Linked DNA regions of Homo sapiens. The protein of the gene in region 2 purifies or fractionates together with the protein of the main gene of each other region. This does not show direct contact. Each region holds a gene or a part of one and is shown on either strand. Other genes may lie near its edges. The genes, in order: DNAAF4, CETN1, PCID2, TTF2, SPRYD3, CCDC191 and LHX4.

Evidence for each region.
Region 1: the proteins of CETN1 (region 2) and DNAAF4 purify together in Homo sapiens (affinity purification with mass spectrometry; 2 studies listed by BioGRID and IntAct, with this or other methods). This does not show direct contact.
Region 3: the proteins of CETN1 (region 2) and PCID2 purify together in Homo sapiens (affinity purification with mass spectrometry; 2 studies listed by BioGRID and IntAct, with this or other methods). This does not show direct contact.
Region 4: the proteins of CETN1 (region 2) and TTF2 purify together in Homo sapiens (co-immunoprecipitation; 3 studies listed by BioGRID and IntAct, with this or other methods). This does not show direct contact.
Region 5: the proteins of CETN1 (region 2) and SPRYD3 purify together in Homo sapiens (co-immunoprecipitation; 3 studies listed by BioGRID and IntAct, with this or other methods). This does not show direct contact.
Region 6: the proteins of CETN1 (region 2) and CCDC191 purify together in Homo sapiens (affinity purification with mass spectrometry; 2 studies listed by BioGRID and IntAct, with this or other methods). This does not show direct contact.
Region 7: the proteins of CETN1 (region 2) and LHX4 purify together in Homo sapiens (affinity purification with mass spectrometry; 2 studies listed by BioGRID and IntAct, with this or other methods). This does not show direct contact.

What each region holds. Positions count from the first base shown.
Region 1 is NC_000015.10:55,429,272-55,432,890, forward strand, and holds the end of DNAAF4 (dynein axonemal assembly factor 4), read right to left. Parts: intron 3,332-3,619; coding exon 3,226-3,331; intron 1,509-3,225; coding exon 1,399-1,508; 3' UTR 1,037-1,398; downstream 1-1,036.
Region 2 is NC_000018.10:578,423-582,906, forward strand, and holds CETN1 (centrin-1), read left to right. Parts: upstream 1-1,957; 5' UTR 1,958-1,986; coding exon 1,987-2,505; 3' UTR 2,506-3,692; downstream 3,693-4,484. UniProt on the Homo sapiens protein: Plays a fundamental role in microtubule-organizing center structure and function. Plays a role in sperm cilia formation.
Region 3 is NC_000013.11:113,191,301-113,195,705, forward strand, and holds part of PCID2 (PCI domain-containing protein 2), read right to left. Parts: intron 3,826-4,405; coding exon 3,771-3,825; intron 1-3,770.
Region 4 is NC_000001.11:117,104,792-117,108,324, forward strand, and holds the end of TTF2 (transcription termination factor 2), read left to right. Parts: 3' UTR 1-2,662; downstream 2,663-3,533. UniProt on the Homo sapiens protein: DsDNA-dependent ATPase which acts as a transcription termination factor by coupling ATP hydrolysis with removal of RNA polymerase II from the DNA template. May contribute to mitotic transcription repression. May also be involved in pre-mRNA splicing.
Region 5 is NC_000012.12:53,072,312-53,076,716, forward strand, and holds part of SPRYD3 (SPRY domain-containing protein 3), read right to left. Parts: intron 3,501-4,405; coding exon 3,425-3,500; intron 2,909-3,424; coding exon 2,784-2,908; intron 2,474-2,783; coding exon 2,338-2,473; intron 1,161-2,337; coding exon 975-1,160; intron 1-974.
Region 6 is NC_000003.12:114,003,970-114,008,374, forward strand, and holds part of CCDC191 (coiled-coil domain-containing protein 191), read right to left. Parts: intron 1,994-4,405; coding exon 1,539-1,993; intron 778-1,538; coding exon 668-777; exon of another isoform or gene 418-667; intron 1-417.
Region 7 is NC_000001.11:180,267,970-180,272,374, forward strand, and holds part of LHX4 (LIM/homeobox protein Lhx4), read left to right. Parts: intron 1-1,683; exon of another isoform or gene 1,684-3,410; coding exon 3,411-3,565; exon of another isoform or gene 3,566-3,865; coding exon 3,866-4,037; exon of another isoform or gene 4,038-4,405. UniProt on the Homo sapiens protein: May play a critical role in the development of respiratory control mechanisms and in the normal growth and maturation of the lung. Binds preferentially to methylated DNA.

The DNA.
Region 1 (3,619 bases), on a different chromosome or scaffold from region 2:
CACTTTGGGAGGCCGAGGCGGGTGGATCACCTGAGGTCAGCAGTTCGAGACCAACCTGGCCAACATGATGAAACCCTGTCTTTACTAAAAATACAAAAAATTAATCAGGCGTGGTGGTGCCTGTAATCTCAGCTACTCAGGAGGCCTGAGGCAGGAGAATCCCTTAAACCTGGGAGGTGGAGGATGCAGCGAGCTATGATCAGGCCACTGCTCTCCAGTCTGGGCAACAAGAGTGAAACTGTGTCTCAAGAAAAAAAAAAAAAAAGGCTGGGCGCGGTGGCTCACACCTGTAATCCAGCACTTTGGGAGGCCAAGGTGGGTGGATCACGAAATCAGGAGATTGAGACCATCCTGGCTAACATGGTGAAACCCCATCTCTACTAAAAATGCAAAAAATTAGTCAGGCGTGGTGGCAGGCGCCTGTAGTCCCATCTACTCGGGAGGCTAAGGCAGGAGAATGGCCTGAACCCAGGAGGCAGAGCTTGCAGTGAGCCAAGATCGCGCCATTGCACTCCAGCCTGGGCAACAAAGGGAGACTTCCTCCGTCTCAAAAAAAAAAAAAAACCTTTAAAATTTAATTAGAGAATTACAGTAACTACAAGCAAAAGGGAAGCTGTGCTATTGTGCTTAACACTTGCATAATCCCAGTGATACAACACAAATGATGGTGCAGTCCAATACCAATACCATAATATTCCAGGTTAATATCTTACACTTTGCTGTCTTTTCTCCCCCTTGTCTACTTGGAGGTACTAGAAAACTATTTCACTCAAAAATTTATCTTCACCAGATAGTGTTATGAAATATGATCAGTTTTCAGGTGCACAGCCTATAAATGAAGTTGAATATAAGGTTTTCTAAACAGTTGTTTTATACTAGGCTGAACTGGTCTAATCTTGAACAACAAGCATTAGAGAAGTATTAAACAAAAAAATAAGGTTCTGTGCAGTTGGAAACTAACGGACAACCTGTCAATATTTATTATACCAAAGTCAACCATTCAGTCAATTAAATGGTATATTAATACAAACAAAAGTTATTTATAAATCTTTTATTTTAAAATTCTACCTTGTTAAAAATTAATCAGTAAGTGTCCTGGTAACTATACCAAAACATATTTTGTTACAAGGGCAAGCTTAATTCAGTAACACAAAAAAGTATACATATGTATTAATATGAAGAAATAAGGAATTAAAATAGATTCTTATTTAGATTTACTTATTCAGAAATGATTCAAGTCAAACAGTTTATTTTCTATAGATTTATAATATTTTGCCCTCAACAGAACTAAAGTACTAAACAGAAAGCGATTCTGTACAACTGGCCATAATATGTACAAAGATGCCTCCAGTTGTTTTTAAAAAACTTATAACAATACTTAGTTACTTCTAATAGTCATTAAGATTTTAGTTCTGTTCCTTGAATTACATTCCGAATCTTCTCAGCATCAATTTGTACAATTTTGTTGGATGGATCAATCTTAAGTGCCGCTTCATAATCCTGTAGGCCTGTGTTTATATAGCAATGATGATTAATACAATAAATATTTTATTAGCACTTCTTTTATCTAGACAATAGTTGTTTAAAATAAAAATAATCACTAGTAGCATGGTTCAGAACAAGTACCAAGTTTTAAATTAGATTCCCATCTTTTTTTTTTGAGACAGAGTCTCCTTCTGTTGCCCAGGCGGGAGTGCAGTGGCATGATCTCGGCTCACTGCAAGCTCTGCCTCCTGGGTTCACACCATTCTTCTGCCTCAGCCTCCTGAGTAGCTGGGACTACAGGCACCTGCCACCACACCTGGCTAATTTTTTGTATTTTTAGTAGAGATGGGGTTTCACCGTGTTAGCCAGTAGGGCCTCGATCTCCTGACCTCATGATCCACCCACCTTGGCCTCCCAAAGTGCTGGGATTACAGGTGTGAGCCACCGTGCCCGGCCCCTAAATCTATCTAAAATAAAATAAAATAAATGCTATATTTTCTGTATACATAGAGCTAAATTACAGAACTTAATACAATCTAACAAATATAAGCAATGTGCATGCACTATGGTGGATCAGTTATTTCCGAGCTTAGGTGTGTGTATACACACACACACACACACACACACACACACAAATACATACATACATACAGGGATGACCGAAGAAGCTCTCTGAGATAAATATCCATGATATCTCAAATCATTTATATATTTTATCTTTTTTTTTTTTTTTTTGGAGACAGAGTCTTGCTCTGTCACCCAGGCTGTAGCGCAGTGGCGTGATCTTGGCTCACTGCAAGCTCTGCCTTCCGGGTTCACGCCATTCTCTGGCCTCAGTCTCCTGAGTAGCTGGGACTACAGGCGCCCGCCACCACACCTGGCTAATTTTGTTTTTGTATTTTTAGTAGAGACGGGGTTTCACCGTGTTAGCCCGGATGGTCTTGATCTCCTGACCTTGTGATCCACCTGCTTCGGCCTCCCAAAGTGCTGAGATTACAGGCATAAGCCACCACACCCAGCCTATCATGTATTTTTTTTTTTTAAGAGACAGGGTCTCACTATGTTGCCCAAGCTGGTCTCAAACTCCTGGCCTCAAGCCATCCTTCCACCTCAGCCTCCCCAGTTCCTGGGATTATAGGCGTGAAGCACCACACCCAGCATTTATCACACGTTTCTATGAAGAGTTGTCTGGTAATATAGCATTTTTTTTTTTTTTGAGAAGGAGTTTCGCTGTTGTTGCCCAGGCTGGAGTGCAATGACATGATCTCGGCTCACCACAATCTCCGCCTCCCGGGTTCAAGGGATTCTCCTGCCTTAGCCTCCCAAGTAGCTGGGATTACAGGCATGTGCCACTACGCCAAGCTAATTTTGTGTTTTTAGTAGAGGGTTTCTCCATGTTGGTCAGGCTGGTCTCGAACTCCCGACCTCAGGTGATCCACCCGCCTCTGCCTCCCAAAGTGCTGGGATTACAGGCATGAGCATCTGCACCCAGCTAATATAGCATTTTTCTAGACTGAAACTTGTTGTTTACACTTATTTTAATTCTCTTCTACAATGAATTTTTTAAATATAATTTAGAAATCATGTATTGTCAGATATACTGCAGACATTACTAAGAATAAATTAAATGCTAAAAATATTTAAAAATGGAGTCCTTAAAAGTCACGATCTTAAATAATTCCAATGACATTTTTTTCAGAGTATAACTTGGGACTTAAACCATTTCTATCAATTCCTTACCTTCTACATACAATTCTAGTTGACAGAATGCTGTTCCACGTCGTACATGTGCCTTCATTCTTGCATTAGCATTGTCTGTAACAGGTGGCATCAATAATTCCAGTGCCTTACAAAATATATATAATTATTACAAGAAAGTTATAGTTTCTTAATTTAAACAAGCAAAAGGCTGGGCATGGTGGCTCACGCCTGTAATCCCAACACTTGGGGAGGCCGAGGTAGGTGGATCACCTGAAGTCAGGATTTTGAGACCAGCCTGGCCAACATGGCGAAACCCCGTCTCTACTAAAAAAAAATACAAAAATTATCTGGCTGTGGTGGTGCACACCTGTAGTCCTAGCTACTTGGGAGGCTGAGGCGGGAGAATTGCTTGAACCAGGGAGGCAGAGCTTGC
Region 2 (4,484 bases):
TTTTAAAAAACAGTTTGTAAAACATTCCTGGCATCATTTAATCTTTTGGGGTTTTCACTTGTTGTATTCAGAAGGTATTTTAGGACCAACCTTAATTGTCATGCATTCATTCAACGAATATTTATTAACCTACCTACTGTGTTGTATCCAGCACTGTTTTGTTTTGTTGTTGTTTGTTTTTTTGGGGACAGAATCTCACTCTGTTGCCTAGGGTGGAGTGCAGGGGCACAATATCTGCTCACTGCAACCTCCGCCTCCTGGGTTCAAGCGATTCCCGTGCCTCATACTCCCAAGTAGCTGGGATTACAGTTGTGCGCAGCAACTCTCAGCTAATTTTCGTATTTTTCATAGAGACAGGGTTTCACCTTGTTGGCCAGGCTGGTCTTGAACTCCTGACCTCAGGTGATCCTCCCGCCTTGGCCTCCCAAATTACTGGGATTACAGGTGTGACCCACTGCACCCAGCCATAAAACTCTTTAACACAAACTCTTCAAAGTGACATCTTTTGTAACCTTCATAGGTTACAAAAGGTATTGATATATTAATAGATTGAGATTTGATTGCGGGGGGGCGGGGCAGGGGGAGAATGCTAAAAAAATAAGTCAGCTTTCTTTTCTGTAACTATTTAAAAGAATGCAAAGTAATTCTACAGGCAATTCCTTGGTGGGCTTATTTGGTAATTTTTTTTTTCTTTTCCATTTTCCTCTTGCTCTTTGGTTTGTAGGAGAACCGCTTTATTCCCAGGAGGCAATTTTGAGTCCCAACATGTCCTGCATCATCTCCTGTGCCCATTGCCAAAGGAAGGCGACCAGAGCGTGGGTTTCAGCACAGCTCTGATTGGATGATAAGCAAGGAGAGTAATGTGCTGCTAGGAGGTTAGAGAAAAGAAAATACTAGAATATACCAGAATGTAGTATTTCCACTTCCCTCCCTCCAAATCAAAAGCCTCATGAATGAAATTATGACCATTATTCAAGTGCAATTATACTGAGTATGTAAAATGGAAACACTGAAAGTAAATCATACATTTGGATATTACATTTCATATTTGAGAACATGCCAGAAACATTGTATTATTGTTGAGTGTAATGTCAGGAGACAAACTTCTACGCATTTTATACATAAATTTTTCCATTTTCTCTGTTTCCCATTTATGTCAAGTTGAACACATGGTATGACTTTTAATATTCTCTCTTCCTTCTCCTTCCCCACATTGAATGTCAAGTGATCACACTCAATCTTGATTATCCTAAATTTACCCTTAGGACCTGTCACCTCATTGGGTGTTGCCGCTAGAACAAGAGGGTTTTTTAAATGGTATAAAAAGGAGAGGCCCGGCTTGGTAGCTCATGCCTGTAATTCTAGCACTTTGGGAGGCTGGGGCGGGAAATCCCTTGATCCCAGGAGTTTCAGACCAGCCTGGGCAACATGGTGAGACTCTGTCTCTATAAAAAAAAAAATTTTTTTTTTTAATTTAGCTGGGTGTGGTGGCATGCCCTGTAGTCTCAGCTACTATGGAGGCTGAGGTGGGAGGATCACTTGATCCTGGAAGGTGGAGGCTGCAGTAAGCTGAGTGGCACCAGTGCACTCCTGTCAAAAGAGAGAGAGGAGAGAGAGAGAGAGAGAGAGGAAGAGTCCCTAAAGAAACCTATAAAACTGGGGTCTTATGGATGCTAGCACATATCTTGGAAAGAACTGCCAGCGCCAGTGGATTACAGAAGACAACTGTGGCTACAGGCTGTTCTTGCCAGCTCAGGCGTCAACTCGTGGAAACCGGTTAATGACCCGAGGGGACAGCGGATTCTCGCCTAAGCAAGATCCCGCAGATGGGAGGGCGTAGGAAGAGGTTCCCCGGGCCGGCTCCAGGCCCCAGCGGGCGTGGGCGTTGGCAGTGAGCGAGGGGTGGTCCCGCGCCGCGCCGGCGGGGGGCGCCCGAATGAGAGCGCGGGGCGGTGCCGTTGGGACCACGGCGGCCAGAGCGGCAGGATGGCTTCCGGCTTCAAGAAGCCCAGCGCTGCCTCCACCGGCCAAAAGAGAAAGGTGGCACCTAAGCCCGAGCTCACTGAGGATCAGAAGCAAGAAGTTCGGGAAGCATTTGACCTCTTCGACGTGGACGGAAGTGGGACCATCGACGCGAAGGAGCTGAAGGTGGCCATGAGAGCGCTGGGCTTCGAACCCAGGAAGGAAGAGATGAAGAAAATGATCTCCGAGGTGGACAGGGAAGGCACGGGGAAGATCAGCTTCAATGACTTCCTGGCCGTGATGACGCAGAAGATGTCCGAGAAGGACACCAAAGAAGAAATCCTGAAGGCCTTCAGGCTCTTTGATGACGATGAGACCGGGAAGATCTCGTTCAAAAACCTGAAGCGTGTGGCCAACGAGCTGGGGGAGAACCTCACGGATGAGGAGCTGCAGGAGATGATCGACGAAGCTGATCGGGATGGGGACGGCGAAGTGAACGAGGAGGAGTTCCTTCGGATCATGAAGAAGACCAGCCTTTACTGAAGTCGGTTCAGAAGCTAAAGTGACTCTCTGGGTTGCCTGCTTCCATTTTGTGAAACCTTAGAGGACAGCGGCTGCCTGTCCCTTCTTCACCCCCTCACCCCCATAATTTGTCTAGATCTATTTCCATATCTCTAGTTCAATAATAGAATTTGAAAGATGCTTGTAATGTGAGTTTTGGGTTTTAATTCTCAAGAGTCAACCTGGAGCACATGAGGTTAAACAAAGGGCCCTGAAGTTTGAGTGCGCCCTCCATTTGCCCTGTGCTGAACTTGCTGTTCATCTGTTGATCTGGAGGCAGGACAGCTTCTGGGACACACAAAAATGTGGTTCCCTTTGTCACTTCTTTGGTGGTCTTAAATTATCTTGCTTCATATATCATTCCTTAAATTCCAGTCATTGTTCCAGCATAATGAGATGGAATCTGCCAGTAGATTTGCCTAGCCTGTCCACTTAGCTGAATACCAGTTTGAAGGAAAACAGGGTGGCCACTTACAAACTTACGGAGCTCAGGACAGATAATCTTATAAAGAATAGACTTGCTTGGGTGGTAGTACGTTGTGCAATTTTGACTATTCACTGGCTTTATACCTGCAAATGATTCTTCGTTCATGTGTAAATTGTCCACCATGGGTTTATCTAGGGCTAGTATGTATACCTGGGCTACAGAATAAAAATAAAATCTAATACTGGCCCAAGCAAAGTATAATTTGCTTAAGAGGTTACGCTAACAAACGATTTTGAGTAAATATTTACAAATGTAGGATCTTAGTTTAGGAAATTATAACAAATACCTTAATATAACATTTTAAGCTACTTATAGTCCTTGGAAATAGCAACAAATATCTTAGTTATTGGACTATTATAACCTTAGTCATCTTATTACTGCTTGATTATGAGACACTCTCCCTGCTAATCCTTAGAACATCTTGGTTCTTGGTACTTGACTTTTAGCCCCTCTGACATATAGTTGATGTCAGAGTGTCTGGCATTTCAGTAGTGCTCTATTTTACAAATCCCAGTAAACTGCTCCACTGTGGCTTGTTTATGTGTTAATACTGCTTGTTTTCTGTTATAAATTATTTTTTGCTTTGGAGTAAGATATCATCATTTTGCATAGCTACAAATCTGAAGTTAAAGAAAATTTTAAAAATGTAATTGTGGGAAAATAACAAATAGATCTGCTGAGATGGAGGCTTTGACTAATGTTTTAATAACAGGCAACAAAACAAAGAGGCAGGATATTTTGGTCACAACTAAACCTAAATTAAATCCTCATACAAAGCCCCATTAAGATAAATGCTCAAATTCTGGGAACATTTCACTTGCTTTGCCAGCAATTTTACCCTTCAGAGGGTGTGGATCTAATCAGGGGAACAAACTACCCTGGGCTTAATTCTCATTAACAGGGACTAATTTGTCAAAGCGGCAGTACTAGCTGAAGTGATGGGTATGGAAGCATTCACTGTGAGGATTTTGCTGAGGTGCCTGGCACAGGGTAGGGGAACTCACCCAGGCTGCAAGATGCTAACAGTTCAGGTTCAAGGTCTTAGTGTGGACTAAGGTGCAGTCAGGATGGGAACAGGTGCAACTTGGGCCAACATCAGTATGAAGGGCCTGATCTGAGGGCAGGGGAAGGAGGGGGCATTCTGGGAAGCAAGAGTTCCTGGTATCCTGTTGACCAGAGTCTTGGCCCAAGGATCAACGTATGAATTAAAGTAGAAATACCAGAAACAAAGAAAGTTGGCAGAAACTAGGAGAAGCAGAGTCTCAGCCAACTGGACTGGGCTCAGCCTTGGCTACTGGCCCGGCAGATGATAGAAGAGAAAACCAGGAACCCAGGCTGAAGCCCAGTGGTTGGGCTGGCCACACACCATGCATAGCCTTAAAGGGGTGGCCTAAGGGCATGGTCCGCTCCAAAAAAGGAAAGGGGGCCCCAGAATATTTCTGAATCCCACTCACTGCCAGGGAAGAACCTCTCA
Region 3 (4,405 bases), on a different chromosome or scaffold from region 2:
TGGGATTACAGGCATGAGCCATTGTGCCCAGCCAAAACATTTATTTCTTGAAGCAAAAAATGGGTACAATTAAGACTCAAAGTCCCGAAAGATCCTGGAGAAATCAGCTAGCATGTACTATAATATTTTTAAAAATTGAGAAGTCTGTATTACTCCAATTCTTTCACAAACCAAATCTTTCTTCAATTATTTCAAGTTAAGTCAGTCACCAATTTTTCAAACCTGCACTGCATATGTTACTAAGCAACTAAGCTCTCTCTTCAGTCCCTGAAGTTGGCTAGTCAAAACACTTGAAATAAAAACGTTTAACAAATATTAAAGTCATCACTGAGTTTGACTTTTCCCTCGCATTTGGGAGGATGGCCTTGGTTAAAGAAGAAAGAGTCTGTTTCTGCCACTTGTGTTCTCCACAAACCCGAGGCCTGCAACAGGCTTGCAGATGACCCACAGCTCAAACTATATTCACAACAACACTAAGCCATTATGGTCTTTTTTTACTGTATTAACGTTTGCACTGATGGTGCAAAAACAGCAATAGGTAAAATGCTGGAGTGCTCCCACCGGCACCAAACTACGCAAGTAATCACCACGTTCTTAAACACCAGACACTCTGCAATCAATCAGTCAATCAACAAACCAGTAAAATTAGTTTCCTTTAAAAAATGTCCTCGATGAGCCAAGCACAGTGGTTCACACCTGTAATCCCAGCACTTTCGGGAGGCTGAGGTGGGAGAATCACTTGAGCCCAGGAGTTTGAGACCAGCCTGGGCAATATGGCAAGACTCTGTCTTAATTAAAAAATTTTAAATTAGCCCGGTATCATGGCGTAGACCTGTAGTCCCAGCTACTCAGGAGGCTGAGGTGGGAGGCTTCAGCCCAGGAACTCAAGGCTGCAGTGAGCTATGACTGCACCATTGCACTTCAGCTTGGGTGACAGAGCAAGACCATCTCTAAATAAATAAATAAAATGTCCTTGATAATGCAGTAAATATGAATTTTCTTAAATCTTGGTCCTTGAGCACACGTTTTTTATATTCTTTGTGATGAAATGAGAAGCATACAGCACTTCTGTTGCACACGGGTGTCTCATGGCTGTTTACAGAAAAGCTCTGGGCAGCTGTCTGAGCTGTGAGCTGAACTAGCTGCTTCTTGCAGAACAGAAGACAGGCAGACACAGCTACCCAGGCTTGGGCATCTGGCTGACCATATTCTCCAAAACGAATAGAACAAATCTGTCACTTCCAGGCAAACAACTGATGGTACTCGTTGCCAATGACAACATTTGTGCTTTCAAGAAAAACCAGAATTCTGGAAAACTTTTATGAACTACTGTGAGCTTAGCAGCTTTTCCTTACTCCAAGGCTTTTCTGATGAGGCCCCTGGAGATGTTAAGGAAGGTAGGGGTTTGGGGGTTGGGTTTTTAACAGTGGTATATCAGCACTTGGGAGGTGCTGCATGGCTCAGTAAGCTAATATACTCCAAATGGTCTGCTATGGTCTGAATGCTTGTGTCCCCTCCAAAACTCATGCTGAAATCCTAACCCTCAAAGTGACGGTGTTTGGAAGAGAGGCCTTTGGAAGGTGATGAGGTCATGAAGGTGAAGCTGTCATGAATGGGAAAGAGAGATCCCTTGCCCCATCTACCATGTGCAGACACAGCAAGATGCTATGAGCCAGGAAGCGGCCCTCTTCATCAGAAACTCAACTTGATCTGGACCTCCCTGCCTGACTTGATCTGGACCTCCCTGACTTGATCTGGACCTCCCTGCCTCCAGAACTATGAGACATAAATGCTTGTTGGTTACAAGCCAACCCAGTTTATAGTATTTTCTTATAGCAGCCCAAATGGACTAAGACATGACTAACACAAGATATTACGAAATCCATTCAGTGCTTTAGGCAGACCAGTGGATTTCAGTGTAAAGGTAGAAAAAGTTTATTGGTACACTTCAGAAGCCACATTGTAACTAACCTTTTTAAAAAAAAAAAACTGCCTCTTGGAGTTTTCCTATATAGAGTCAAAGAATTATCTCAATGGTCTGGAAAGCCTATGAGAATATTCCTCTCTTTTCCATCTACAACTTTGTGATGTAGCCTTTCACCATCAGGCAGAGAAACACTTTACTCAAAACAGTGTACTGCAACAGAGTAAGTGCAGAAGCAGGCAAGGGGACCAGATTGCCTCTGCTGAACTAGACATCAAAGAGGTCAAAAGTGATGTGACACTACTTTTCTTAGTATTTTGTTTTGGAAATATAGTTATTTTTTATTTAAAAAGTCAGTTATGTTACATGTAAAAGGTTTATTATTGTTGCTTTAAAATGAATATTTTAAAATCTTTTCTAATTAAAATTTCTAATACAGTAAATATAAATAGATATAACAAAAATAAAAGCTTTCTGAGGTCTTCAGTATACTTTTCAGTTCTAAAATTTCCATTTGGTTCTTCTTTATATCGCCTATTTCCTTGTTGAGACTTTAAATGTTTTCATTTGTTTCAAGCATGTTCTAAATTGCTTGCTGAATCAAGAGGGCTGTTTAAAACTCTTGTCACATAATTCCAACATTTGTACAATCTCAGCCTTGGTGTCTTCTGCTGAATGTTTTTTCTCATTTGAAATCTCTGAAAGTTGAGATTTTCCTGGTAATCAGTGTCGATTAGATCCCGGACATTTGAGGCACTACCTGACGAGACTATGGACTTTATTTATCTTGTTTAGCAGGCCTCACCATGCAAGCAGAGAAACAGGTGCATCCCCTTAGCCACTGAGTCGGGGAGGTCTAGGTCCCCTGCTTAGCCTCTGACATCCACCTGGTGGGGAGGGGGACTAGCTCCTCATTACTGCTAGCCCAGGGTGGAGGTCCTGGGCCACCCCCAGTCCGCACCACTTTGCAGATGGGGTGGGACGGACCTGCTGACTTCTTTGCGCCTGGCACTGGAGTGAGGCAGTGACGGTCAGAGTTCTGTCTTGCTGGATTGGACTGTCTTCCCAGCCTCCTGGTTTCCTTGGGGCTTTTTGTCTCTGCCTGATGGTGAAAGGCTTCAGGTTTCTAACGCGCCCAGTCCAGGACAGACAGGAGACAAAAAGGAAACCTGGAGACTCCCTACACGTGACTCTGAGCCCCATCCCCCTCTTCTCTCCACCTCCCATAGCCATGCCGGCCTGACAACTCCCAGGGTTTTAACTGTTTCTAGCAGGCACAATAGGGTGAAATCCATTGCATCCTGACTGGAACTGAAGTCAACAATCATTTCTAAAACTGTAAAGGGGTCGTCCTAAAACCAAAAGGTTGACAAATGCTGCTCCATAATGGGGACTTCCGTGGGTCCCCATGGGGACGTCGCCTCCATAAAACCCAGGATCTCCCTTCACCCCAGGGAAGCCCCCTCCTACTGCCCAAATCTATATGAAGCTGAATTCTTTTTGGTGGGGGAGCAGGCCACATCTTAAAGGTAGAAGAGATGCAGAATAAGCTCATTTGTTGTTGTTCCACTCACTTCATAAAAATAACACATACCATAAATGGTTAACCACAAAATGGAACCTCTCCCTCTATATGAACAGTGTGGAAATCTGAGCAAATGTTTATATAAATCTGTTGGTGTTAACCCAGAAAGAATAGTCAATATCTTTCTTTTGCTCCCTATACCAGACACATCTCAACTCCAATTTGCTCCTCAAAACTTCTGGGAAGAATGACATGAAATTAAACAACAGATAGTCACCAAGTTTTAGTTTTAAAATAATAATGACAGCAAATTAAACTTACATTATTGGCAAACACTCGAAGGTCAAGCGCTACTGCATACATGACAGGCAGAGCCCTGCAGGGCAAAAAAGTAAACAAGTGTGAGGGGCTACGTGGGCCAAGATTCCATCCCCAGAGGTGGGAAGAACACGGACACCCAGGGCTACTATCCAGAATGGAGTCCGCACTTATCCAAAACTCTGACAGTTGTCTGCTTCCTCACCTTCTGTCCAGGCAGGCTGCAGGCCTCAGACTTCCTGATCATCCTGGGGCCCCACAATGCGGTGCTCCACACCCCTGTCCCCAACCCTGTCAGAGACCTCAGCCCTGCTTCAGTTCTGGGCTCCCAGGATATCCTCCTCCCCTCAGCTTCCCACCAGTATCCAAACAGCACCACTAAAAAAGAAGTGGTTTGATCAGATTTCCTAACAGGAACCAGAATATGTAATACACAAAATGTCACAAAACAACTTTTACAGCCAACTGGCAAAACTGGACTGTTTTCATGTGCAAGTTTTCACGTTAAAAGATAAAAGGGTGGCGGGAGGCAGAGGCTGCAGTGAGCCAAGACTGCGCCACTGCACTCCAGCCTCGGCGACTGAGCAAGACTCCTTCTCAAAAAAAAAAAAAGATAAAAGGGCGGGTTTGTTTGCAAA
Region 4 (3,533 bases), on a different chromosome or scaffold from region 2:
AGGCTGGGTTTGTTTGGTTTTTTTTGTTTTGTCCTCATGAGGCTTAGCATCTAAGGGAGACAGGCATGAATTAACAGAAGTGGCATTCTGGTATCTGTCTCAGCCTCATATTCATTTTAGTGTAAATCAGTTTCGTCAAGTCTAGGTATGACAAGGTGGGTCTTTGCACCTTCTAGCGATGGGCAGCATCCCACAACACAGTGGTCTAATTGAGGTGCTGCACTATGAGTCCTGCCTGTGTTAACCAGCCTTCCTTCATGTCACAATACTGCTGCTGGATTTGCTTTTTACATCTGCCTATTGCACCTGACTTGGGCATGGATGATATGAGGTAATAAATGCTTTGAAAACCATGAAGGGCCACACAAGTGCTAGTGTTATTGCTGTGGGACAAGGTCTGGGAATATGAGAACCAGCAGCAGCATGGGTGCAGCTGAGAACCAGATGGTGAACATCTGTCTCCAAAGTGCAACATTCCTGAGCACCGGATTTATAAGGCATTTCTTACTCGACAGAATTGACTTCATGGAAGGTATGTAGTTTGACTTTGCCTTAGCCATGTTGATCAAATAGGAGTATTGTGCATGCCGCAGCTAGACAGAGTCCTGGGCCCTTTAAAAACCTTGTCAGTGACTCCCATTGCAGGCCCAGCGCAGTGGTTCACACCTGTAATCCCAGCATTTGGGAGGCTGAGGCAGGCAGATCACTTGAGGCCAAGAGTTCGAGACCAGACTGGCCAACATGGCAAAACCTCCTCTCTACTAAAAATACAAAAGTTAGCCAGGCGTGATGTTGGGTGCCTGTAATTGCAGCTACTCGGGAGGCTGAGGCAGGAGAATCACTTGAATCCAGGAGGCGGAGGTTACAGTGAGCTGAGATCATACCACTGCACTCCAGCCTGGGCCACAGAGAAAGAACGGTGATTCTTTCTAGCAGAAATTAGCAGAGTAAGTGTTTTTGGAACAATTGCTAATGAAAAGAAGGAAAAACAGAAAAAAAAAATTTTCTGTTTATGGGAGGTGACTTATTTCTCTATCAATCCTGTGAGTGATTTAGCATGGCAATTCATGAACACTGAGTTGTTTCCTTGCTCTGATTGTCTGTTGCTCAATGAAATGGCTTTTAGCAGGGCTCAAAGGTGAAGCCAGATTCTCCTGCACTAATAGGATAAGCATGGAGACACCAGTGTTCAGTGTGGCCTCTGGTTGTCTGAAATTTTGCTGTCAACTCTAATACCTTGAAAGAATTAGGTTTCCAAAGTGGGATATTGTGCTGCTGTTTGTGATATAGCATCTAGACTTAGGAAAGGGCAGGAACAATTTAAAAGCACATCTGTAGGCACAAAGAGAATTATAATAGAAATTCAGAATTCCTAGGCATATGACCTAGACTAAAATGTCTTCATAACTACAAATGAAATCAGGGTCATTTATAGTACAAACTACCACAGAAGTCAGTAGTTAGGGGATGGAGATAGATATGAAAAAAAAAAAAAGCAAACCCAGCCTAACTCCCAGGGAGGGAAGAGGGGCGACAGATATGCAGCTACACAATGTTTTTACTATCTTGAGTTCTTTTTACCCAGATTCCATAGCTAAATCCAGATGTATTAATAGGTAGAGACTACTTCAGAAAGGATGAGACTATTTTCTTGCTTAATTATCCACACAGTAATTCAGAAATGTATATTGAACACTTTTTATATGCCAGGCACTGCTGGGCACTGGAAATATAAAAGTAAGCAAAAATGAAAAACTATCCTGTCCTCCTGAGGCTTAGCATCTAAGGGAGACAGGCATTAGTCAACCCCGTGTGGCTGTGAATCAGCCATGATGCTGAGTGCTACAAGAGAGGACTGTGCGGCTGGGAGGGCTTATAACAGGATTTGACCTAGTTAGGGAAGATCTGAGGAAGTGATGAAAGAATGGAAATCAATATGTAAGAGCTCACAAGTCAGAGTGAGATGTTTCTTCCTATACTGCCTGCTTCTAATGAGCATCCACTTCATTGAACCACCTCTTCATTGAGCCAAACCTACCATACAGGGATACATTCTCTGGAGGAAAGTTGAGCAACTATTGCATTTGGGACATTAGAGTATGGGTGGGCTGACAGGTATGTGTATGTTTATTATCCAAGACAGCCAAGGTGTTTATCCTGTTACAACATCCCAGAGGACAGAGGCTCTTATTTGTGACTCTTTTTTCTTACCTGTAACACCAGAGGCATAACGTACATCATAATGCTGCATCTTGTTGACGCTTCAATGCTCACAATTCAAAGGTGATTTCTGAAGCACTTTGTTACACTGGGGACAGCTCCTAAATCCTCCCACTCTTTTTTTGCCTCACCTTGGAGTCTTGGGCTCTGTTGATCACTGACTCTGCCAGGTCTTTCAGCAGGCAAGACAGCTCAGTTAAATTGAGTTTGGACTCCACTGTAGTGCATGCATGAGACAGCACCCCCAATCCCCAACACCCACACACAAACTTTAAATATTTGTAACAGAATTGTTACCATTAATATTGCTTAAAGGCTAACACATTAGCCAGAACCTAGATGTCTTCTGGAAATTTTTTATTGCAATGTTACTTCATCTACATAAAGTTGTCCAATCACTGAAACCTCCAACTGAAATAAATGGTAAGCTTTTTGTTCTCAATTCTGAAATCAGATTCATTAAAAGGCACATGGGGATAGATGATATAATACAACAGGCTTCTTCATGGGAAGCAGTTCCCTAGATGTATGAGGTAATTGGAAAATTCAAGGCTGGTCTCTCAGGTGCATATAATTTATCCAACAGACTCGAGATAAGGCTGATTTTTTTTCCAAGTGGTATTTGTTTAAATGACAAATACTGAGGTTCGGGAGAAGGGAAGTCTGGCTTATAAAAACAGATACCAAGGAGATCCAAACTAAAAATTCTACCAATTAGATCTTTATTCACTGATCATAATATTAAGTCTCTACTATGTGCCAGGAACTGTCCTACATCGGGACAGTATGGTAGTTTAAAAATATCCCTGCCCTCATAGAGCTTACAATCTAATATGAGAGGACAGACAACAAACAGAATATATACATGTTGGCCTGTAATCCCAGCACTTCGGGAGGCTGAGATGGCCAGGAGTTTGAGACCAGCCTGGGCAACATGGCAAAACCCCATCTCTACAAAAAATGCAAAAAATTCACCAGGCATGGGGTCGGGGGGGTGGTGTGCCTATGGTTCCACCTACTCCAGGGGCTGAGGTGGGAGAATCACTTGAACCTCGGGAGGCAGAGGCTGCAGTGAGCCGAGATTGTGCCACTGCACTCCAGCCTGGGTAACAGAGAGAGAGAGACCCTGTCTCCAAAAAAAAAAACCACAAAACAAAACATATATATATGTGAGATGGTGATGAAACTGGGCAACTCTGGGGTGGGAAGTTGCTATTTTGTACAGGGTAGTTAGCTAATAGGGTGATTTTTGATACTGGAGCGAGAACTTGAGAGGAACATGAATCATGAAGGTATCTGTGAAAAAAGCATTT
Region 5 (4,405 bases), on a different chromosome or scaffold from region 2:
TCATTTTCCCTGAGTTCCACTCCACCAGGGGGAGGCCTGGCTCCTAATCCGCTCCCACCCCCCACTGCTTCTGTTTTGTTATCAAAGACTGAGTTGAAAACAGCCTGGGTTGGGGTGGAAAGGCCAGAGGGTGGAGAAAAAGGCCAGGCCAGGAGCAAGGGGGTAGGAGAGGGACAATTCGAAGTGGGAGGGCTGAGCAGCCCACTAGAGGTCAGGGCCAGATCCCGGACTTGGCGTCCATTCACTCCCAATGCAGCACAGTGTATTGAGGCAGACAGGAAGAATTTTCCTTTCTCAAGGTTCATGAATTTTCCAACAAAACTTAAAATCCGGGGAGGAAGAATTCCCCTTTCTCAAGCTCCACACGCTTCCCAACGAAGCTTAAAATCCATACTAAAGCAGGTATGAGGAAAAGATAAATGAAGCAAGTTTGGAGGTGTAAGGATGCTCACTGAATCTTTATCTGCCTCCATTCTAATCCTCTATCAAATGCAGGGATAAGACAATAGAAACTGACATTGACACTTCCTCAAAAAAGATGGCTAAGAACCTTCCACCACATGTGTGGACTTCTGACCACACCTGCCCCACAACACTTTGAATGAAAAGCCTGGGCCAGGCATTTTGCCTCCAGATCAACCCCCAGCCCCTCAAAGGCAGTTGTGCAGGGCTGTAGAAGACACCAGAAGCTGAAGGAACCAAAAAAGGCAAAGCAGAACTACTTGTTCCCAGGGTCAAACTGCGAACCTGAGTTCCCTGAAGAGGAGGAAGTGAAGAAAAGAGAACATGTGCTAAAGAAAACACAGATCTGGACTCAAGGACTCATGTCAAGAGCCTAGGCTATCTTGCCAAACCCCACACGGACACTGTCCCGACTCCCCATTCCCAGCAATTCAGACATGACCATGTGCCCACAGGTGTTCTGCCCAGCCTCCTCCGACCCAGCCCCTCCCACCCTCCCACCCGCTACTTACAGTCCCACAGACTCTGACATCATGTAGCCGGCCCCATTCATCCTCGTAACTGTCCACCATCATGACGCTGTCGTCCTCACGGCCCAGCTCAGCGTTGAGGTGCAGCCGCACCTCCTCACCCAGGGAGTGCATGCCCACTGCTGGGAACAGTCCATCTGGGGACATGGGCATGATGGTAGAGCCCACCTGCAGTGGGGGGAAAGACGGAGCTGCCACCCGGCCTGCTTTTCCATAGCTCACCTAATTCTCACAAGGGTACTTTTAAGATGATGCAACCAGCCGGGCGTGGTGGCTCACGCCTGTAATCCCAGCACTTTGGGAGGCCGAGGTGGGCGGATCACAAGGTCAGGAGATTGAAACCATCCTGGCTAACACGGTGAAACCCCGTCTCTACTAAAAATACAAAAAATTAGCCGGGCGTGGTGGCGGGCGCCTGTAGTCCCAGCTACTCGGGAGGCTGAGGCAGGAGAATGGCGTGAACCCGGGAGGCGGAGCTTGCAGTGAGCCGAGATGGTGCCACTGCACTCCAGCCTGGGGGACAGAGCGAGACTCCATTTCAAAAAAAAAAAAAAAAAGATGATGCAACCAATAATTATCACACACACTGACAGATTAAAAAAAAAAAAGCAACCCAGAGGTGCAGAAAAGTTTCCAAATGTGCTAAGTACTCCTGGCTAAGCAAGGTATGTACAGAGCTAGAAGACAAACACAAGTCTCCTGACTTGCTGCCAAATACTTTCAGTACGTGTGCTGGACAGGAGAGTGCCGAGGCGCAGATGCTAAGGCAGCAGGACCCCTTGGCCAAGGCCTGAGAAACCAATTTCCCAATGTGGGAGATGGAGTTGGAGAGAAGGGAGAGAGCTGTGTGTCTCTCTCTACTATTGGCTCCTGTCCCATCTCCTCACCACGCCTAGTCTCTCTACGAACAGGATAGTGAAAGAGACGTGAAACAAGGAAAACAGGACACAGAAAGGACATATCCCCAAAAGTGCTCAAGTCAAAACCCAAAGAGGACCTCCAGCTTACATGGCCAGGCCATAATCTTCCCCTCTCTTTTATCTGCTCAAAACCTTCCCCCAAATCACCCAATTCTGTTCCCCACAATTCCTGCTCATCCTCTGCTCCACTAACTTGCCTCTCTCTGCCTGTCATCTGGGCAATGTCCCAGCTTCCTCTGGCCATGGGAAGTATCTTCTCCTACACGCAAGAGACTTCAGGAGAATCTGAGGCTGGACTGGAGGAGATGGGAACTCAGTGCAAGGGTCCCTGGGCAAGCCCCAGCCAGCAGACTCTTCCTAATCACTCCCCACAAATCCTTGGGCAGATTTCAGCCACGTAAATCCCACCACTATTTCCCACTCACCCGCTTCCCATTTTTGGTGAAGAAGATCTGGGCGGTCTGCACATCAAAGGACACAGGCTCAATGCCACAGCCAATCCGGTCCCCGGAGTTGCACTTTGACCCAAACTGGCGGCCCTTGGCTCGGCCATTGTACAGCCTACAGACAGAGTAGTACAGACACAGGACCCGAGCCTGGCCTCCCAACTTCTCCCCAGCACTGACAGCAGAGGCCTCATCCTCATCTTGCTGCTCCTGGTCATTCTGTGATGGTACCCACTTACGTCCTGGCGTGAGCATCACCCTCCTCTAGTCTGTAAGCCTTCAAGGGTGCTGCCAGGCCACTTCCCTGTCCTGACCAGAAAAGTCTATGAAACACCCAATGGGAAAAGCCAGCCCAAGGTAGTTCTTCAGATCTAAGATTCCCAAATTCATAGGAAAAGGGCCGGGTTGCACAGGAGCCAACTCACTTGCCATCATCAGCATGGTAGGCTACAGAGTCAGGCAACCAGCCAGGCTGGTGATCCAAGCTGTAGTACTGAGGGACCAGCCCCACAGCAATGGTGCCCCGGACTCCACTGTCCACAATAGACACCTGGAGAGAAGAAAGCAGGGCACAGTCAGCAGGGCTGGGAAATGGGATGAATTGCTGGGGGTGGGGGAAGGGGACTTAGAGATTAAAGGGCGCTGAGGCTCAAAAAGAAAAAGGACATGGGAATCAGGAAAAAAGATAAGATACTCAGAGGGGGCAATTGGTGAGAGTGGGTGCCTATTTCACTTAGAAAATTACTCCAAAGCTTTGGAGAAAGATAGGACTCACGTCCCTATATGGTGGGTTTGGGTTAGGGGACATGAGTCAAGTCTGGGATATGGGTCAAAGTCTACCTAGCTAAGGGGTAGGAGAGCAGAAGGGACAGGGTGACAGGTTTCCAGGGCACCTATCTCTCAGATGAGGGGCCATGCTATCCTGCACCTATTTCCCAGCCAACAGGACAGCCCTGATGGAAAATTAAAAGGCCCAGGTCATACATCTAGTAAAGGAGCTTCTTGGGGCTTAATGATCTCACCCCCAAGCTCACCCCCTGCTCTGCCCACCCACTGCCTTGATCACCTCAAAATAATTGCTGTCCTTGGTCAGGGGTCGAGAAGCCACGTAGCAGCCAACTTCACCAGAGTTTCCATGATAACTGAAGGAGGAATGAGGGGGGAATTCCATTAGCAGCCTAGCCCAAGAGTAGGGGGAGGGCCTCAGCTTCTCCCACCCTTACCCTGCAAGGGCCAGCACACAGGAGAATCCATCAGGCTGCACTTCAGTACATCGGCAGACATCAGAACCAGATACTTAAGGTCACCTCACCCTACTCCTCTCGCAGCCTCCAGCTGGAATCCAACCCGTACCAGACCAGTGCAAGCCTGGTTTCTTCATTTCCAGGAGGAAAAGAATGTAGAGCCTCCCTTACTTGCCTAAGAGAGGTCTCACAACCCTGTGTAACCTCAATCTCTCATGCTGCAGCTTCAGCCCTTTTCCTCTGGCTCTGTCCTCAGTGGAGCTGGAGAATAATGGCTGGTCTCTATCCTCTTTACCAAAGCCCTTCATCGATTGGAAGACAGTGATTCAGTTCCCACTCCTCAGCTTTCTTGCCTCTAGTTAAACAGTACTACTTTCTTCCCCCTTCAGTGGAACTCTGTGAGAGCATGGGCTCAGAAGGAGTCAGGGAAGGGGTTCAAGCCAGAAAAGAGGGAGGAAACACACACAAGCTAAGGGGCTGGAAATACAGGAGTTGGTGGACAGGGTACACTATAGAATGGCCCTTCCCCAAACAGGAAATCAACTATCTCTGAAACAGCCACTCTTCACTAGATCTAATCCCTGAGACAGTGGCAGAAGACTCAGTTACCCCACTGGAGTCTTCTCAACAAAGCACCTAGGAAGCTTCTGAGACCCCAGCAGCCTCCTGTGTCTGATGTGATCCCTTCCCCTACCCAGCTGGATCCCCTCCTTGCTGGATGAGGACAGAGCCACCCAGTGACAGAGGCAGAGGTGAGTGCAGGGTGAAGCAGCACACACTGCTCCACTCAGAAAGGCCTCTGG
Region 6 (4,405 bases), on a different chromosome or scaffold from region 2:
TTTAAATAAGGGTTTCTGGCCAGGTGCAGTGGTTCATGCCTATAATCCCAACACCTAGGGATGTTGAGGTGGGAGGACTCCTTGAGGCCAGGAGTTTGAGACCAGCCTGGGCAACACAGGAAGACCCTGCCTGTACCAAATAAATAAATGTTTCTAGATGCATCAAAAATGTTATCAAATTAACATATCTGGTTTGTAGGTTTTATTACTAAAATCCTATCAACAAGTTATAATATTATAAAATAATAACTTATCTTGGATTACTGTAAACTGATCAAATTTGAACATTAACAAAGTACAATGACAGGTGTCCTTTATCAGTGTTTGTCCTTGGCAGTTACTCAGAGTTTTCTCATTTGTGTAATTATTCCTTTTTTTTTCACAATCCAAATCTCAAATTACAGAAAAATGATATACCTTTCAGCTATGTTTTTTTGTGTGTGTGTTGGCTGGGAATGCCAAAAAGGTTGGCAAAAGGGGCAGGAAAAAAGTAGTGGGGCTCTCTGGTGTACTCCACTCCTCACATGTCTACCATTCTGAGATTTTTGATGTCAGGTTCTGCCAAGTCTCAAAACCTCAAGAGTTGCCAGAATTCAGTCCCAGTGTACACATTCTACTCTAGGAGAGAAGATAACAACCACCAAGGCCACCACCGAGACAGCCCTGCCTTTTAGTATGGGATGCGGTGTCATCAATTGCTTTGGTTTCCTTCTGAGTCCAGAAAGAGAATTTCGGGAGTCACTTCTGCCTTCAGTCCCAGGGGAAGCAACAGGTGAACTAGGGAAAAAATAAAGGAAAGGAATTTAGACTACTAACCAGTTTCCTTCAAACTCCTTTGACCTGAGATGCTCAAAGCCTTTTACAGACCTTAATGAATCCCTACTCTCTGAGATAACTACATATTATATCCACTCCATAAATATGTGTAATGAGGTATGGAAAGGTTGTGTGATCGGCATGAGTCTACACAGTGAGTCAGGTACTGTGACTCCCATCCTAATGCTTCAAATCCATAGGTGTCACCACATCTTATCCTACCATTTACCACATGCAATGAGTATGTCTCAAGCACAACTGAAACCATCTTACGTGGCTTTTGAGAAACTTGGGCTCTTATTTGAGGCTCAAAGATGTTTTGTTTTATCCCTAACAACTACAAATTTAAGCTAGGAAATAAGCCAGCCCAGGGGCTGCTCCATGTGGACCTGATGTTGTCTGACTTGGCTTCTCAGCACTTAACATAGCTAGAAACCCAGAAATAGAGCAAGACAGCATTTTTCTCTTTAACTGGCATAGTAACAGAGATCCTCAAAGGCAGCCGTGACCCAAATGCTAACAGTATAACTGGATCCTTACAGGCATCCTTGACTATCTGTGCCTGTCATATACTAGTCATAACTAGGCTTCTTTGCTTTGAGAGTGCAAAATCAAGGAAAAGGAACAATCATGGGGCTCAGAAGCAGGGCAAAGAAGCTCAGGAGCCCAAAGTGAAAAACCCCTTAAAATGAGTCCAGCGAGTTCTGATAGAACAGACATACTTCACAAGCATCTGGCAGGTTCTTGGTTCCTCTTCTCTGGGCTTTGACAGCAGGTGGCTCTGTGCTTCTGTGACTGCTAAGGCATGCTCTGCTGCCCACTGAGCCTCTGCCAGCTGCAGGTTTTTCTTCAGCTCGAGAATTGTTTTCTGCTGTTCCTGAAGTTTCTTCTTTTGCTTCTCAATCAGCTGTTGCTGGAAGACATGGCGGTTGTGGAAATGACCCAAGCAAAGCGGTTCTGCTTTCTGGCTGGTAGTTCTGAGTGTCTCGTTGCTGCCAGGCTGTTGAGAGGGTTCAGCACCCAGGGTCTTGTGCTGCTTATTGCCAGGTGCACTCAGAGAGACATTCTGAAGGGAACCCTGCAAGTTGCCTGTTGTTGTTCTTCCCAGGGGAGGACTGAGCATACAACCACTGCTTCCCAAGGGAGGCTTTTCCCACAAAGGGGGCACAGCAGTCTCCTGAGAGAGAGAAACATGTTATAGCTCAACTATTTAAAGGACTGTGCTGATGAAATCCAACATTTATGAGGTCAGTATTGTTTTGTTTAATGGCACAACTGCCATGTATTGCAGGTAAAGGTGGTCTGTGCTCCTGGCCTGGCTACCTCAGAGGCCACCACTCTTAAAACATGCATTGCTGCTCACCATGAAAACTGGGAGAGTGGCCGGCTGTGGTGGCTCATGCCTGTAATCCCAGCACGTTGGGAGGCCGAGATGGGCAGATGACTTAAGGTCAGGAGATTGAGATCAGCCTGGCCAACATGGTGAAACCCTGTCTCTACTAAAGGTACAAAAGTTGGCCAGGCATGGTGGTACGCACCTGTAATCCCAGCTACTCAGGAGGCTGATGCAGGAGAATCGCTTGAACCTGGGAAGTGGAGGTTGCAGTGGGCTGAGATTGTGCTACTGAACTCCAGCCTGGGCAACACAGCGAGACCCTGGCTCAAAAAAAAAGAAAACTGGGAGAGTGGCTACAGCTGTATGAACCATTGCCATGGGCCAGGACATTCGTAATAGCAAAAATCTTCTCTTATAAATTTCTAATTTGGACAGTTCATTTGTGAATTAGGCAAGGTTACTCCAGATATATATATATATATATATATATATATATAAATATATATATTTTATATATAAAAAACATGAATTTAATATGCATAAATTGACTCTGAATTTTAGTGGAAATTTGAAGATGTTGTGGCAAAGGATATATTCTTTCTCGAGAATGTCTGAAAACCAAAGAATATCTTTACAAATGAATAATATATCTCTTTTCTTTCAATGCCTCTCCTGACACTAGTAAATTAATCATATGCCATAGTATAGGATATTTAGTTATTTCAGCATCAAGGTCCCGTTAAAGCCTAGCTAACCGTTTCCAGCTATTCCTGAACTATCTATGGGTGGGAAATATTTGGAAGCTCAGGATCACTGGGCAAATATCTGCATTACAAACTATCTATGGGTGGGAAATATTTGGAAGCTCAGGATCACTGGGCAAATATCTGCATTACATAAGAATAATGTTACCTAATAATATTTTGTATTAGCATATCACTAGTTTTCAAAGCTTTATTACATAAATCCCATTTAATAGACTGAGGTACCATACTCAATTACAAGTTCTATACAGAGGGGAAGGAAACAAGAATTTTTATTTAGAAACAGCTATCTTGGCCAAAATAATGTCATATTAAAGTGTCTCTTCTAGAATGGTTTGAGTCCATGTTCTAAGGTCTAAGTTTTTGATTCTGCCATCTGCAATGGCTTAAAGAGAAAAATGCTATGAGCTATCTAAATATCAGAAGCTTCTTGTTCTAACAGGACCCCATCCTTAGGGACTCAAAAATATTTTTCACGATTATAGAAATGCTTTCCATAGACTCAACTGAAATGAAAGATGTGATATATGGAAACTCTGACATGTTAAACACTTTTAAAAGTAACCTTTTATTTCAGTAATGTCAGTGAACACTTATTCATGAGAACACCTGCTTAAGCAATTTATATCAAGCAGGGTATATGTTTTAGGTTCTTTTAAACTTGGTGGTAATGACACCTTATTAACCTAGCAAGACTGTGTCAAAGCCCTGAGTAAAGCGACAGGGTTTCTTTTGGATCATGGTAACTTTTTAACATGAAAATAAAGAACATGAAGGAAAAGCTTAGTGGTACAGATAGTACTTAATAGAGCAGGAGTGAATGGTCTGACTTAATTAGAGAAAATCACCTATTAGCTAACTGATAATTTTGGAAAAATTCAAGGTACAGTTTGTGTGTTCTTAGTACATGAGTTCCTATGACTGTATAATTAATGAGCATCTAACTAAAGATTTTATATTTTCACTTGGTCATGTTTTGCTGTACACGCTGGAAAAAGATTAGTTTACTTAGTCTCTACAGGGTCTATTGTAGCCCTCTATTATCATTTGCTCCATTTTTAACAATACTGTCCTTTCTTGATAAAGTCTTTTGTTCTTGATTTCAGAGATTTGGAGTCTTTTGTTCCCTTGAGTCTAAATATATATAAATTACTATATATATATTACTATATATATAAATTACTATATATATTACTATATATATAAATTACTATATATATTACTATATATAAATTACTACATATATATAGTAATTTTTCTGTTTTGCACAGGTAAAAAATACTTTCTGCTGACTTTTTTTTTTTTTTCATTTAAGAACAGTGGCACTTTGTAAGGTAAAAGGTTCCATACAGCTCTTTCTTAAGATAGAAGTCTGTCTTGGGTCTCAATGGAGACAAAATTATCTGCCATAAAGGTAGATACATTGCCTAGGGGAAGGGACCAAAATGTTACACATAAGTCCCAACAAGCATCTTCCTGATCCCCCCTT
Region 7 (4,405 bases), on a different chromosome or scaffold from region 2:
CCCACCACCCCCACAGCTCTGGCCTTTCAGGGTGGACAGAGGCCTTTGACCTCCTTCCTCCAGAGACCTGGGGCCTCTGCAAACCCATCCCAAGGCTCTTTGCCTGCAATGTACTAATCTGCTCTGGTTTCTTAAAACTCACTCCATGCTATTGCCTTGAAGTCAATTGTGATGTCATGGGAGATTAGGGCAACTTGTCAGGGATGAACCATCACAGCAGATGGACTCAGAGATACCAAGACACCTTTGGAAGTCTAGTGCCGTTCATCAGAGATACTAAGATGGCACGACCTCCCCGGCCTGCAGCTGGTTCTCATCAGAGGCCTCATTTGGACTCTGAGCACTCTCAGCTCAGCATCTCCTGATGTTGTGGGTGGTTCAAGAGACAAGAGAAACAGATGTAGATTGGTCAGAATCTGGCTGGGGAGGTGGGAATGACATTGTGGTGCTCACAGTTTTATCGAGGAATATTTGCACCACAGCAGACCTCTGCAGGATGATGGAAGATGCCGGACTTGCTGTCAGAAGCTGGCTGGGCATCCCCCCACACAGGGAGATCTCCTGGCAAGTTGTAGAACTGGCTGACCCTCGGCTTCTCAGCTGTCTATGGAGGATCATAGCATCTGCCACGTAGGGCTGTTTTCCTGAGGTTTAAATAGGATGAGGCTTGTGAAATGGGATGTGAAATAAGAGACTGACGTGGAGGAGAAGTGCAAACAGGGAGGTGAGGTGTGCTTGAGGTTTTAAAGCAGCGGAATGTTACACAGTATTTCTGGCCTGTTCCCCGGGTCCTTTCCTGACCCCACCCTGGCTGTGAGCAAGGCAGGGCTCCTCTGTCCTGGGCAATCGGTGATCCTTGGAGCAGCGGGGAGTTCTGTCCACTGCAGAATGCCTGGCTGTCTTTTCAGGTTGTTTTAATTCCTCCTTGCTACTCTCAGCCCTCCTGCAGGCTTACAGTTCCCTCCCATTAGCTAAACAAAGGATCTCAGAGCAGTTACTTGCACCTTAGTGTGAATGATTTTGTTCACTTGTTCCGTCTCCCTGGATATTTGCATTTTCAATATAATGAGGTTGCGTTTTATGCCAGGGACAAGTTCTAGGAGACCCTGCATCATTCAAAACTAACATATTTTAAGACTAATTTTCCTGTAGGAATTAATGTAGAGTGTGTGGGGGGGGGGGTGGTATATTCTGAGAGCACATAAATCCATAACCAGTGAAGTGTATCTTTGCCTTAATGCTACTTTTTATTTTCTCAGCATTATCTTGAATACCTTGCAGAACGCTCTCTCCTAAATTAACAGCCCAGGGTATCATGGGCTCCCTTGGCCTTCCTCATAGCGTTTTGTCACATTTAACTTCCGTACCAAAGTTATTGATTTTTGGGTACATTTTTCAGCACGAGCACTGCCACTGCTACTTAATGAATACTTGGATGACATTGTTATGGGATATAAAAAAGATTTTAAATTATAATAACAGTGAATGTTAAAATAACAGCATATTAGTCCCCATCATTGCAAGAAGAAAATCCTGTGTGTGTAGCAGTGCCGAACCAGCGGGCCACCAACCAGGATGACGGGTCTATCCCAGTGGCGCTACCATCTGGCTGTGGTGAAAAGAATTTATAATTCCGTAGGCCAAGCTATTTTGAAATTAAGTGATTCTCGAGAAATTAAAACATTTTTGGTGATTGCATTATTTCACATTTTTTAATATAAAGATTGTACACAAGTGCACTATTTCCCATTTGCATAATTCAAAGTTGCATCAGACACTCCCGTGTAGACTATAAATATGCACAGAAGGGACAGACTCCTCAGAATGAAAAGGAAGGCATTTTGGAGGTTCCCCTTTGTCTTTTGGAATGACTCTCTAAGTAGTGTAGTCTCTGTGGCAGGGGCTCCGGAATCCCTACCCTTCGGGTTCAGGGCTTCAGGGAGGGAGTTGGGCCACAGTAGTTCCGGGATGACAGTGGCCACGTGAGAGAAGAAAACAGCCCGAGGAGAAGGGAAGGCACGGGTGTGTCCCCCCTCACTGTGTACACACATGTCCTGGCTGCACAGCTGCTTCATTCCTCTAGTGCCTCCCAAGATCAGGGCAGGCCGTGTTGCCCTCTGGACTTCCAAGGGGGAAGTGAGTTACTGGCCCAAGTCACTCACTCATCAAGAACACTGAAGCCAGGTCTGCTGACTCCAGGGAGAGCCTTGTAGATTGTGAGGACCGAATGCATATAAAGTCCTTAGTCAACACCAGCACATGGTAGGTGCTAACACATGTTGGCTACTATTGTTTCTAAGAGAGGGTTTTCTTGAATGGAAAGAAAGGAGAAAAGACAGAGAGGAAGTCAGGAATGTCACAGAGACACCTTCTGGGGCACACAGGTGAGCAAGCACAGAGAGCAGAGCTGCCCAGGCCAGCTGCTGACTTTATTCCGTGTGTCCTCCAGGGGCACTGTGGAGAAAAGGGCAGTATGCCTAAGTGCTGGGAGAGGAAACAAACCTTTACATTCACCTGTGCTTCCGAACACACGCACGCGCCTCTCTCTGTACCTGACTTTGAATGGAACAAACCAGACTTTAACTAACAGGAACTTGAGCTTGTTCACTCAAAATCTGTCTAGGACTTTGTGTTGATCAGTCAGTGTGTTGCCCAGAACATTCCTTAGACTAGTTTTCTCAAAAAATTTTGACTACAATCCACAGTAAAACTCATTTTACATTTCATCTCAGTACACATATTTATACAATAAAAACTAAAGTTTAATGAAATGATCTTGCCATTCCATCCCATTCTCTTCATCTGATTTCCTGTTTTAGTTTTGATCCACTAAGGTGACTTTACAGCCCACGAGTGGGTTCTGACCTATAGTTTAGAAACCTGCTTAGACACTGTTGGGTGTGCAAGCTCACCCCTGGCTGTGAGCCCAGCGACGCCAGGGCAAAGGTGACATGGCTGTGGGGAAATGGGAGACTCCTGATGAGACAGAGGGGAGGGCATCTGGGGCGACTTTGAACATGACTTCAACCTGGCTGTTCACCTTCACAGCTCTGGCAAGAACTCATGAGGATGTGTGAGCAGAGTGTTTGTCATGACAGGGACGTGTGGAATTGGGTACATTCAATCTGATGAGACTTCTGTGCAGCTGGGCTGGCAGGGGAGGGTTGAGGCAGGGAGCTGAGCAGAGAAAGGACTGCTGTCCTCACTTTTCAGTGGCTTGGGAAGGCCCGTGGTGCAGGAGTCAGTGCCATGAGAGTGGGGACCTCTCCACTCTGATGTCCCCTGTGCCTCGCGCTGTCCTGCCTACAGCAGGCAGGCTTAGGTGCAGAAAGGATGGAAGGGAGGGTGTGGGAGGAGGCGCAGCTGCTGCAGATAGGCCGAAGCCAGTAAGCAGTGGTTTTTCCTTGCAGATGACTCAGAGGCTGGAGCTAAGCGGCCCCGGACCACCATCACAGCCAAGCAGCTGGAGACATTAAAGAATGCATACAAGAACTCCCCCAAGCCTGCCCGGCACGTGAGGGAGCAGCTGTCCTCAGAGACAGGCCTGGACATGAGGGTCGTACAGGTGAGATGCCAGCACTCCTGTGCCCTCCGGGGATCCCAGGCCCGGGACAGGGGTGGAAGGTATCCTGAGTGACATCAGCTCACGGGTGGTTGGGCTCAGGGCTTGACCCCAGGGCTTTTGCCAGAACTGAAGACAGAGTTCTGAGGCCCACCTGGGGAGAGGGGGTGGGGCGCATCGCACTCCCAGACCTGTGCTCCATTCAGGCTTCAGTCTGCTTCCAGCCGCCCGCCTAGGGGGTCCTGGGGGCTTTGGGTTTGTGGTGGACGCCCCCTGAGTATGTCCCTTGTGCTTGTGTGGCAGGTTTGGTTTCAGAACAGAAGGGCCAAAGAGAAACGCCTGAAGAAGGATGCAGGGCGGCACCGCTGGGGGCAGTTCTATAAGAGCGTCAAGAGGAGCCGGGGCAGCAGCAAGCAGGAGAAGGAGAGCTCTGCAGAGGACTGTGGGGTTAGTGACAGTGAGCTGAGCTTCCGAGGTGAGCAGGGCTGGAGGGGCCAGGCCGAGGCCTTAGGAAAGTCCCCTGGGAATCTGTAATCCCTGGCACTCAGGAGGGATCTTTCTTGAGGCCTTGGCAACTCCCTCCTGAACACAGGCTTTTCCTTAAGACTTGCAGTGAAGGGTGGGGGAAATGGTAGTGGCCCTTTACCATGGGACAGGAGTAGGAAACAAGATTGCTGAGGTCTGGAAGCTGGGATGGGCCAGGCCCCGTCCTGTGGCCCCAAGGTCTCCCCTCCCCTCCTGCTGACTGGGGCCTCCCTCATCAGCCCACACAGCTATGAACAGATGACTGGGTTCCAGCCTTGTGCCCCTAGCCCCTCTCCCATCTTTGTCCCCTTTGCTGGG